2 separate regions of the Homo sapiens genome follow, and region 2 is linked to region 1. A link means that fine-mapping ties the variant in region 1 to the plasma level of a protein whose gene starts in the linked region. Region 1 holds a variant in brackets. A gene starts in the other region. All regions are shown on their reverse strands.

Region 1 (5,333 bases):
CTTACTGGTTTTGCACCATAACTTCCTCAGCTTGAGCAGTTTGTTAAGGAATGAGGTTACAGGTATGCGAGCACTTATTAATAATGCCTTAGAATCTGTTGCGGACCTGGTATTCTCTGTGTCACACATCCTAAGTTGTTCTTCTTCCGGTAGTACTAGCAGTTGTTTGTTAAGGGTTTGATCTGACAGAATATTCCTTTTCACCAAATCAGAGGCCTTAGGAGAGCCTCTGAGGGCTGCCATCTGTTCACATGTCAGCAGGACAGGGCTTCAGAAAGTGAGGGCATACCAGTGTCCTTGGTGTTTGATGCCTGCTCTAGTCACTAGAGTGTCAGTCTAGTTACTTTCCTTCAGCTGTGCAGCTGCATCAGTGGGACTGTAGCAATAAAAGTTTGTCAAGTGATTTTTAAAAATCACTGTGTTGTATAATATATCGCACAGTATATTGAATTAGTCGTTCATACTGTTCTCCCTTGGTACTGAGAAATGTTTGAGGCTTGAGTGTTTGTCAAAAATCATTTTTGGATTGCCACCCACCATAGCTGACCAGAGTGAGAGACTGTAATAGCTTTCCCCTGACTTTCACGGAGTGCTCTGATAGCATGTTTTATCACGTGTATATATGTATGATACATATAAAGTAATGCATGTTCCTGGTAGGAAAGTTTATAAAAAAGAGAACAGCGGCCGGGAGCAGTGGCTCATGCCTGTAATCCCAAAACTTTGGTAGGCCAAGGTGGGCGTCTCACAAGGTCAGAGATCGAGACCATCTCAGCACTTTGGGAGGCTGAGGTGGGCAGATCACGAGGTCAGGAGTACAAGACCAGCCTGGCCAACATGGTGAAACCCCGTCTCTACTAAAAATACAAAAATTAGCTGGGCGTGGTGGTATGCGCCTGTAGTCCCAGCTACTCGGGAGGCTGAGGCAGGAGAATCGCTTGAACCCAGGAGGCGGAGGTTGCAGTGAGCCAAGATCACGCCACTGCACTCCAGCCTGGTGACAGAGTGAGTCTTCGTCTCAAGAAAAAAAAAAAGAGACAACAGTATTTAAGCTCCATGAAGGCAATTTGTGTACTGTTTTATCTTCTGTGCCTATGGATGATGGCTGATACTAGCTGTTCAATAAATATTAGTTGGTTGAATGATTTCATTTACAATTTTGGCTTAGTACCTTCCAGTTTTTTCCTACACATCTTTTTTTCTGTACAGTTGAGATTGTACTATATATAAACTGTACATGACATGTTTTTCTGTATATCATGTCACTGTGATGGTAGAAACTCTTCATACATAATCTTAATGTCTATTAATTTGTTTCCACAGGATAACATCTTTTGCTACAACAGCTTTCAGACTTTTTGATGGCAGCCCTACAATAGGAAATACATTACATGTAGCACATGTACATACATGTGTATTTGCTTATTGGCTGTCTATCCTCAGAAAGTTAGGGATGTTTTATTCATGGCTGTAACCCCAGTGCCTAGATATTGCCTGGCACATAGTAAATACCAGGGTTCAATGAGGAATAAAAAAAAAAAAATGAAAGGCAAGAATGCATACAGGACAGTAATTGCAGTTTCCTTGTGTGATACACTATGTTTTCTTTGGTATTCTAATTCAGTTTTCTTTTTTTTTTTTTGAGATGGAGTTTTCCTATTGCTGCCCAGGCTGGAGTGCAGTGGTACAGTCTTGGCTCACTGCAACCTCCACCTCCCGAGTTCAAGCGATTCTCCTGCCTCAGTCTCCCAAGTAGCTGGGATTACAGGTGTTCACCACTACACCTGGCTCATTTTGTATTTTTAGTAGAGATGAGGTTTCACCATGTTGGTCAGGCTGGTCTCAAATTCCTGACCTCAAGTGATCCACCCGCCTCAGCCTCCCAAAGTGCTGGGATTACAGGCGTGACCTACCATGCCCGGCCTCTATTTCAGTTTTCTATTGCAATCCAGAAACTTTTTCTGTATAAATTGATTGTGACTCACTCAATTGGTTTCATGCCTACTTGTGATTCGTGACTTGAAAAACATTGATTTAGTTTGCTGCTAAGTTTTCACAATTTAAATAAAATTCTTTCTTTTGATTATATTTCAGATTTTGTCCTTAGGAAACTCTTGATACAAATTGCCATAATACATTCTAACAGGTTCTGTTATTTTCCTACCAGTAGTGTACCAAAGTGCTGTCAGTGTATTTTAAAAAATGCTTCCTCCACTTTTCCAAAAGCTTATTTACATACAGGGAAAGTTTCAGGGCTATATGCTTCAGTTTAATGGGGGAGAATGAGGTAGATCAGTACCATAATCCTTACCTTCCCTTTTTCCATGTCTTGGACTCTATATCAAAAGCCCATGAGATTGTAATCACAGTGCCTTCCTTGTGTTTTCAGATTCAGGAATTGTAGGGCCTCAACCTATAGACTTTGTCCCAAATGCTCTCCGACATGCAGTAGATGGGAGACAAGAGGAGATTCCTGTGGTCATCGCTGCATCTGAAGACAGGCTTGGGGGGGCCATTGCAGCTATAAACAGCATTCAGCACAACACTCGCTCCAATGTGATTTTCTACATTGTTACTCTCAACAATACAGCAGACCATCTCCGGTGAGCTCTGCTTATGTGATTCTGCTTCTAGAGGATGATTTAGAGCAGGCCAGCTGCCAATCCAGGATCTGTTTTTCTGTGGTTTGTATGTTGTTTTATACAATTGAAATTGTACCAGTGATAAACTGTACAAATGACATATTTTTTTTAGGACTGTATTATGAGCATATCCCCATAATAGGAGAAGTGATACAAGGAGCTCATGCCAGGAAGTAAGTCAGCTGTCACTCTGAACTGTTAACCCCACCTGATGGTGTTTTGATAATAATACTTTCTCAGTGAAGGGAGCAGTAAATGTTGATTTACAAGTCACAAGTTCCTTATTTCATGGACATGCTCGGAGCAGTTCTGGTCTAGAGTGGGAAGGGACTTAGCAACAATGGCAAGGTAGTGTTGTGATGCTGATCACAGATCCTGATCCAAATCCTGGCCCAGAGTGATCTGGGGAAACTTGGATAGTCTAATCCATTTTGAAAATGAATAAGACTTATAAAACTTACTCCAAATTTGTTGGTCTAACAAATTAACCAGTTGTCAAATTTCTGAAACATTTTGGTCCTTGTGGCCCTCTGCATGGTTCATATTTAGTTTTTAAAGCTGTAAATTCTGAACGCATTTAAAATACAGAAACAGAAGCTGTATAAAAATAGACTACAGAAATAACACTAAGTAGCCACAAAACACTGATTTGAAACTGACCTAGAAAAAATGTGCAGTACTCCTTTAGCAAACAGTTTTTTCTTACAGGTAGTGCCTCAGACTTGAGTGGTGGAATTAGGGTCACCACAGTTAAGAGTTGGATAGTCCAGGTGGTGATGAAATGTTCTTAATTCTATAGTTTTTCTAGAGTAGTTTTAGTGTTAGAAGATAATTACCATACAATCTTAATTCAGGGAGGGACTTTGGTGGGAATTACCCTCACTTCAGACGAGGAAACCAAAGCTCAGAGATAAAAGGAGCTTGAAAACACCTATTTGGTCCATAGGGTTTCTTTTGCATTATTCCCTCATTGGTTTGGAGACATTATTTGAAACTAAAATGTAGTGTTTTATCTTCATCAGGTCCTGGCTCAACAGTGATTCCCTGAAAAGCATCAGATACAAAATTGTCAATTTTGACCCTAAACTTTTGGAAGGAAAAGTAAAGGAGGATCCTGACCAGGGGGAATCCATGAAACCTGTGAGTTCCATGCATCCTTCTTTGCACTTGGCAGTATTAGGAAATAATGGAATACCTGGGTATCTGTGGGTATAGTGCAAGTAGTTTCCTGGGGACCAAGCCTGGGTGGTTCTAAGAGTCCTTTCTTCTCCTGAATGGGTACTGAAAGCATCCTAGGAGTTTCTGTGTAAATAAAAGCACAGCTAGTGCGGTATCCTATGCCAATTATTCTTTCCTTTTCCAGTTAACCTTTGCAAGGTTCTACTTGCCAATTCTGGTTCCCAGCGCAAAGAAGGCCATATACATGGATGATGATGTAATTGTGCAAGGTATCAAAAATGTCACCATGAGTGCTGTTCTCCACCCAGATTGGGTACAATTGCTAAATAAAACA[A/G]TGGGCTACAGTGGGCTGTAGTGGTTTATTTATGGTCTTCTATAAAAGGTCACCATAGGGAGAAGTGGGAGTAACAGGGAACTCTCAAGGCAACGGAAATGTAAATCTTAACATCTTGTCTATTTCAGGTGATATTCTTGCCCTTTACAATACAGCACTGAAGCCAGGACATGCAGCTGCATTTTCAGAAGATTGTGATTCAGCCTCTACTAAAGTTGTCATCCGTGGAGCAGGAAACCAGGTAAATTGCTTACCAAACACCCCTCTTCCTACAATATTGTTTAATGGGAAGAGGTTGCAAATTCAGGGAACTCTTTTGCTGCAATTTACACTCCCCAATCATTTCATCCCAAAACTCAAGCCTGCTTTTCTGTAGACTTCTTCATGGACTTGACAGCCTAATTGTTCTTGAACATCTGGTTTATTATGTCAACATCTAGGTTCCTATTCTAACTTGGAATTTCAAATATTTATTTTCTAATCTGAAGAAGTCAGTTTAACAGCTCTTCTCTCTACTGGCTATAAAATTGTATCTATTTTGTTTGAAGCAGTAAGTACATATATCCTATTTGTGTTTTTAGTACAATTACATTGGCTATCTTGACTATAAAAAGGAAAGAATTCGTAAGCTTTCCATGAAAGCCAGCACTTGCTCATTTAATCCTGGAGTTTTTGTTGCAAACCTGACGGAATGGAAACGACAGAATATAACTAACCAACTGGAAAAATGGATGAAACTCAATGTAGAGTAAGTATGTAACTGGCCTAGCTGTGAAAAACTGTTGTATTTCAATTCCTAGAGTCTTGACTAACAGGAGTTAGTCAGTACTTTTCACTAACAAACATTTGTTTTCTGTCCCACCAAGAGAGGGACTGTATAGCAGAACCCTGGCTGGTAGCATCACAACACCTCCTCTGCTTATCGTATTTTATCAACAGCACTCTACCATCGATCCTATGTGGAATGTCCGCCACCTTGGTAAGTAGAATTAACCAGTGGCATAAGCTAGTAAAGAATTGGTATCTAAAGAACTATCCTCAGGGATGGGGTATATTCTTTGTTTCCCTTAAGTAAGTTTTCTGCACAATTTCACATGGCGCAACGATGTGGCTATTTTTGTCTCAAATGTAAGGTTCCAGTGCTGGAAAACGATATTCACCTCAGTTTGTAAAGGCTG
Region 2 (5,312 bases), not on the chromosome of region 1:
AAGTAGGAATGTGGATACTTCCCGCACCCCAAAAACTGTCTTGAAAAACAACTAGAGGGCTGGGCGCGGTGGCTCACACCTGTAATCCCAGTACTTTGGAAAGCCAAGGCAGGTGCATTGCCTGAGATCAAGAGTTCAAGACCAACCTGGGCAACAGGGTGAAATCCCGTCTCTACTAAAATACAAAAAATTAGCTGGGCATGGTGGTAGGCACCTGTAATCCCAGCTACTAGGGAGGCTGAGGCATGAGAACTGCTTGAACCCAGGAGGTGGATGTTGCAGTGAGCTGATATCGCAACACTGCACTCCAGCCTGGGCGACAGAGCCAGACTCTGTCTCAAAAAAACAAAAAACAAAAAACTAGAAAGCCTGGGCCAGGTGCGGTGGCTCACACCTGTAATCCTAGCGCTTTGGGAGGCCGAGGCCGGCGGATCATGAGGTCAGGAGATCGAGACCATCTGGCTAACACGGTGCAACCCCGTCTCTACTAAAAAAAAAATACAAAAAATTGGCCCAGCGCGATGGCTCACGCCTGTAATCCCAGTACTTTGAGGGGCTGAGGCGGGCGGATCACAAGGTCAGGAGATCGAGATCATCCTGGCCAACACGGTGAAACCCCGTCTCTACTAAAATACAAAAAATTAGCCGGGCGTGGTGGCGGGCGCCTGTAGTCCCAGCTACTCGGGAGGCTGAGGCAGGAAAACGGCGTGAACCCGGGAGGCGGAGCTTGCAGTGAGCCGAGATCGCGCCACTGCACTCCAGCCTGGGGGACAGAGCGAGACACCGTCTCAAAAAAAAAAAAAAAAAAAAAAAAACTAGAAAGCCTGGATCCGCTTGAGAGGCCGTCACTGAAGGGCGGGAGCTCCTCGCGGACGCACACACCCTATCTAGCTCAATTGGTGTCCCCGGCCACCAAGACAGGGCCCGCCCGCGGTAATAATTGCCACCTCCCAGTGGGAGCTGCAGATATTTCCCAGCGTCCTGTGCTGGGCGCTGTGCCAGGAATATCACAAGCATTAACTTGTTTAATTCTCATAATAACCCCAGGAGATCAAGCCTCTTTTGATGCCCAGATGAGAAACGGGACCCAGAGAGGTGAAATGATTTGCCCGAAGCCACACAGCACGTGTCCCAGGGGAAATTGGAACCCTGGCAGGGCCGTTGAATTAGGCTAAAGGGACCTTGGGAGCGCTGAGTGAGGGTTTCTTGCATGGATGGATGAATGAATGAATGAATGAATGAATGAATGAATGAAACAGAAATACCCAAAAGGGAAAGACAGAGACACAGAAAGTGACACGAAGAGACAGAAGCACATAGAAGAGACATCGGGGAGGAAAGAAGCAGAACCGAGCCCTGGAGCGTCTACACTGACCCTGAGCGGGAGAATGGCGAATGGGGAATGAGGGGTGTCTACACAGACCCAAACGCTCCTAGAGGGAGAGCGTCGGCAAGGAACGCCCTTGGGAAGGTCCCCGAGTCCAGGAATGGGGAAGGAGCAGGGCTGGGGCGTGACCATCCGCGGGCGGGGTCAGCGGGCCGCGGACCCTCTGGGGTCAGTCCAGGGGCGAACTCCTCACCCCGGATCTGTGGAGTCAACTATGAACGTCGTGCAGGTCTTCTTCTTGAAGATCTTGGGGATCCAGCTCTGGGGACAGGAACAAATGTAGGGGTGGAAGTGGGGTGAGAGGGCACCCAGTTCTGTCCTATGGGACACAGAGCCACCCACCCCGTGCGCTCCCCACGGACACAGGAGTCCGGGCCCCCAGCGCCCTCCCGCTCCAGACTCAGGAGTCTCGACCCCCATGCCCTGGACCCTGGAACCTGGACCCTCCCATCCCCCTCCTCCGTCTGACCCAGGAATCTGGGTGTCCAGCGCCCTCCTCTCTGGGAGCCTGGAGGCGAGGTCCCCAGCTCCGCGCTCCCGCAGACCCTGGTCCGGCGCTCACCTGCTCCTTCTCCGGCACCACCATGCTGCCGCGGCCGCCGCAACCTCCTGCAGCCCAGGGCCCCGGCGCTCCCTCCGCCGGCTCTGCTTCCAGACCCGCCCAGAGCAAACCGGATCCTCCACTTTCCAGCCTAGCCTGGGGCGGGGCGAGGTCTGGGGGGCGGGGAGTCTTGGAGACGCCAAAGCGGGAGGCGGGGAGAGGGCGGGTCCCAGGCCGCGATAAGGGGACAGAGGGACAGCGACCTGGGGGGTGCAGAGGTCCGGGCCGGGGGGAGAGAGACACACAGGGGAGACTCCAAGGGCAAGCGCGAGATGGGAACAGAAGGAGTTGGGGGCCAGTGGCGGAGAGGGAACAGACTCAGAAAGGAGGATGCCAGACAGGGAGGGGACAATTTAACCCAAAGAGGGGGAGACAAAGACTTAGGGGACAGAGAATCAGAAGGTGGGGCAGCAGGGACCCAGGGATAGACAGAGAGAGAGGGGGACAGAGACCCACAGAGAGAGGGGGACAGAGACCCAGGGAGAGGGGACAGAGACCCAGAGAGAGTGGGACAGAGACCCAGAGAGAGTGGGACAGAGACCCACAGAGAGAGGGGGACAGAGACCCAGGGAGAGGAGGACAGAGACCCAGAGAGGGGGGGACAGAGACCCAGAGAGGGGGGGACAGAGACCCAGGGAGGGGGGGACAGAGACCCAGGGAGAGGGGACAGAGACCCACGGAGAGGGGGACAGAGACCCAGGGAGAGGGGACAGAGACCCAGAGAGAGGGGGACAGAGACCCAGAGAGAGGGGGACAGAGACCCAGAGAGACGGGGACAGAGACCCAGAGAGAGGGGGACAGAGACCCAGAGAGAGGGGAACAGAGACCCAGAGAGAGAGGAGGACAGAGACCCAGAGAGAGGGGGACAGAGACCCAGAGAGACGGGGACAGAGACCCAGAGAGAGGGGGACAGAGACCCAGAGAGAGGGGAACAGAGACCCAGAGAGAGAGGAGGACAGAGACCCAGAGAGAGGGGGACAGAGACCCAGAGAGGGGGGGACAGAGACCCAGGGATGGGGGGACAGAGACCCAGGGAGAGGGGACAGAGACCCACGGAGAGGGGTACAGAGACCCAGGGAGAGGGGACAGAGACCCAGAGAGAGGGGGACAGAGACTCTGAGACAGAGGGGGACAGAGACCCTGAGAGAGGGGGACAGAGACCCAGAGAGAGGGGAACAGAGACCCAGAGAGAGAGGGGGACAGAGACCCACAGAGAGAGGGGAACAGAGACCCAGAGAGAGGGGGACAGAGATCCACAGAGAGAGGGGGACAGAGACCCACAGAGAGAGGGGAACAGAGACCCAGAGAGAGGGGGACAGAGATCCACAGAGAGAGGGGGACAGAGACCCAGGGAGAGGGGGACAGAGACCCAGAGAGAGGGGGACAGAGACCCAGGGAGAGGTGGACAGAGACTCTGAGACAGAGGGGGACAGAGACTCTGAGAGAGAGTGGGGACAGAGACCCAGAGAGGTGGATGCCAGAGATGGGGAGGAGACACCTTGACTGAGGCAAGGGGCAGAGGGGGATGCAAAAACCAAAGAATTGGGGGAAGGGCAGGAACTCAGAAAGGAGGGGCCAGAGATTTAGGGGAGAGAGAGGGACACAGACTTGGGGGAGGACTGACACTAAGATAAGAGTGGGACAGAAGCCCAGAGTGAGAGGGAGAGGCAATCCCATGGAGGAGGGACAGGGACCCTGAGAGAGCAGATGACAGAATTGAAGAGAGAGGAGGACCCGTGAACAGGAAAGGAGACCCTAGTGGGGGCAGTCATGAAGGGTGAGGAGTAGGAAATACTGACACACAGAGACGGGCAAGGCCACTTGTCTCCTGCCAGCCCTCTGTGATGGGGACAGCTGTGGCCTCCGTAACCTGAGTCCCCCTACCCCTCCCAGCTGTATTTATAGCCCTGGCCTAGCCCAGTCCCTGCCCCCAGATCTGAGTTCCAGGGACAGGAGGTCATGGGCACGTGTGTTGGGGGCCATGTTCCTTTCCCCCCATTCTAGGGCCTCAATACTGACATCACTCTCTCACCAGCACGTATCATTCCAGCTGGAAACACCCCGCAATCGAACCCCCAGTCCTTCCGTCCCAGGAGTCTCTCCCCTCTGATAAGTCTCTTCTGCCTCCCCCAGGTGCCCCAGGCTCCCCCAAAAACCTGCTAAAAGTCTAGCCTTTGTCTTTGCAGCTGCCAAACGTGAGCTTGTTGGTAGTTCAAAGTCAAGTCCCTTGGCCACCGTCTCCTGGCCAGGGAGAGACCCCTCACTGGTCCCCTCCCCAGCTGGGAGGAGGAGGAGCAGGAGGCAGGCAGGCGGGGACTGACCCAGAATAACTCAGGGCTGAGAGTAAATTTAGCTGGAGAGAGGGGAGGGGAAGGACCCTATTGGCTGGGGAATGGGGAGGGAGGGCCCCAGAGGGGGGTCAGGGGGCTCCGGAGACAGCCTCAGAGGGGTGTCCAGAGCCAGGCAGCAAGGACCAGAGGAAGGTGGACAGAGACCGAAAGGACAAAGGAGAGACACAGAGAAAAAAAGAGACCAACCCCAAAGGGACAAAGACCCCAACGTTTGTCCACATTGCCGCAGAGGCAGCTGGAGCCAGTGCTGCCTGTCCGTCCCCATGGGCCACCATAGGCCATGGCTGCACGCTTCTGTCCTCTGGGCTGGGGTGGCCAGCCTGCTCCTCCCCCCGGCCATGACCCAGCAGCTCAGAGGGGATGGGCTAGGCTTCAGAAACCGGAACAACAGCACTGGAGTCGCCGGGCTCTCCGAGGAGGCATCAGCAGAGCTTCGCCACCACCTCCACAGCCCTAGAGACCATCCAGATGAGAACAAGGATGTTTCCACAGAGAATGGGCATCATTTCTGGAGCCACCCAGACCGTGAAAAGGAGGATGAAGATGTCTCCAAGGAATATGGGCACCTACTCCCAGGCCACAGGTCCCAAGACCACAAAGTCGGAGATGAGGGTGTCTCAGGTGAGGAGGTCTTTGCAGAGCATGGTGGGCAGGCCCGTGGGCACAGAGGCCACGGGAGTGAAGACACGGAAGACTCAGCTGAGCACAGGCACCACCTCCCCAGCCACAGGAGCCACAGCCATCAAGACGAGGATGAGGATGAAGTTGTGTCCAGTGAGCATCACCATCATATCCTCAGGCATGGACACCGAGGCCATGATGGGGAAGATGATGAAGGAGAAGAGGAGGAGGAGGAGGAGGAGGAGGAAGAGGAGGCCTCCACTGAGTATGGACACCAGGCCCACAGGCACCGAGGCCATGGGAGTGAAGAGGATGAGGATGTCTCAGATGGACACCATCATCATGGCCCCAG

Alleles and levels. Positions count from the first base shown, and alleles are read on the strand shown. Strength reflects both the effect of a copy and how common the allele is.
For the plasma level of the protein whose gene starts at base 4,444 in region 2, A is the low allele of the variant in region 1 and G is the other (weak association).

The links. A credible set is the group of variants that fine-mapping cannot tell apart. PIP is the posterior inclusion probability: the model's chance that the variant is causal. Protein levels are from antibody-based Olink assays in UK Biobank. Linkage for the fine-mapping came from a reference panel and not from the study's own genotypes, which makes the PIPs less certain.
Region 2: HRC starts here. The variant in region 1 is the best candidate, but not a certain one, in a credible set for the plasma level of the HRC protein (UK Biobank, PIP 0.88).

The regions. Positions count from the first base shown.
Region 1 is chr3:52,694,991-52,700,323 of GRCh38, reverse strand. GLT8D1 (glycosyltransferase 8 domain containing 1) reads left to right here. Exons shown (of 10, transcript NM_018446.4): 3 at 1-62; 4 at 2,390-2,603; 5 at 3,665-3,782; 6 at 4,006-4,090; 7 at 4,284-4,396; 8 at 4,737-4,903; 9 at 5,022-5,134; 10 at 5,289-5,333. Among named protein-coding and RNA genes, the nearest start is that of SNORD69, 4.9 kb to the right of the region's middle. The variant A/G (reference allele first, on the strand shown) is at 4,156.
Region 2 is chr19:49,154,528-49,159,839 of GRCh38, reverse strand. HRC (histidine rich calcium binding protein) reads left to right here and starts at 4,444. Exons shown (of 6, transcript NM_002152.3): 1 at 4,444-5,312. The coding sequence starts at 4,603. TRPM4 (transient receptor potential cation channel subfamily M member 4) reads right to left here and starts at 2,048. Exons shown (of 25, transcript NM_017636.4): 1 at 1,950-2,048; 2 at 1,581-1,648. The coding sequence starts at 1,973. RefSeq lists a silencer at 823-1,009 and an enhancer at 1,693-2,314.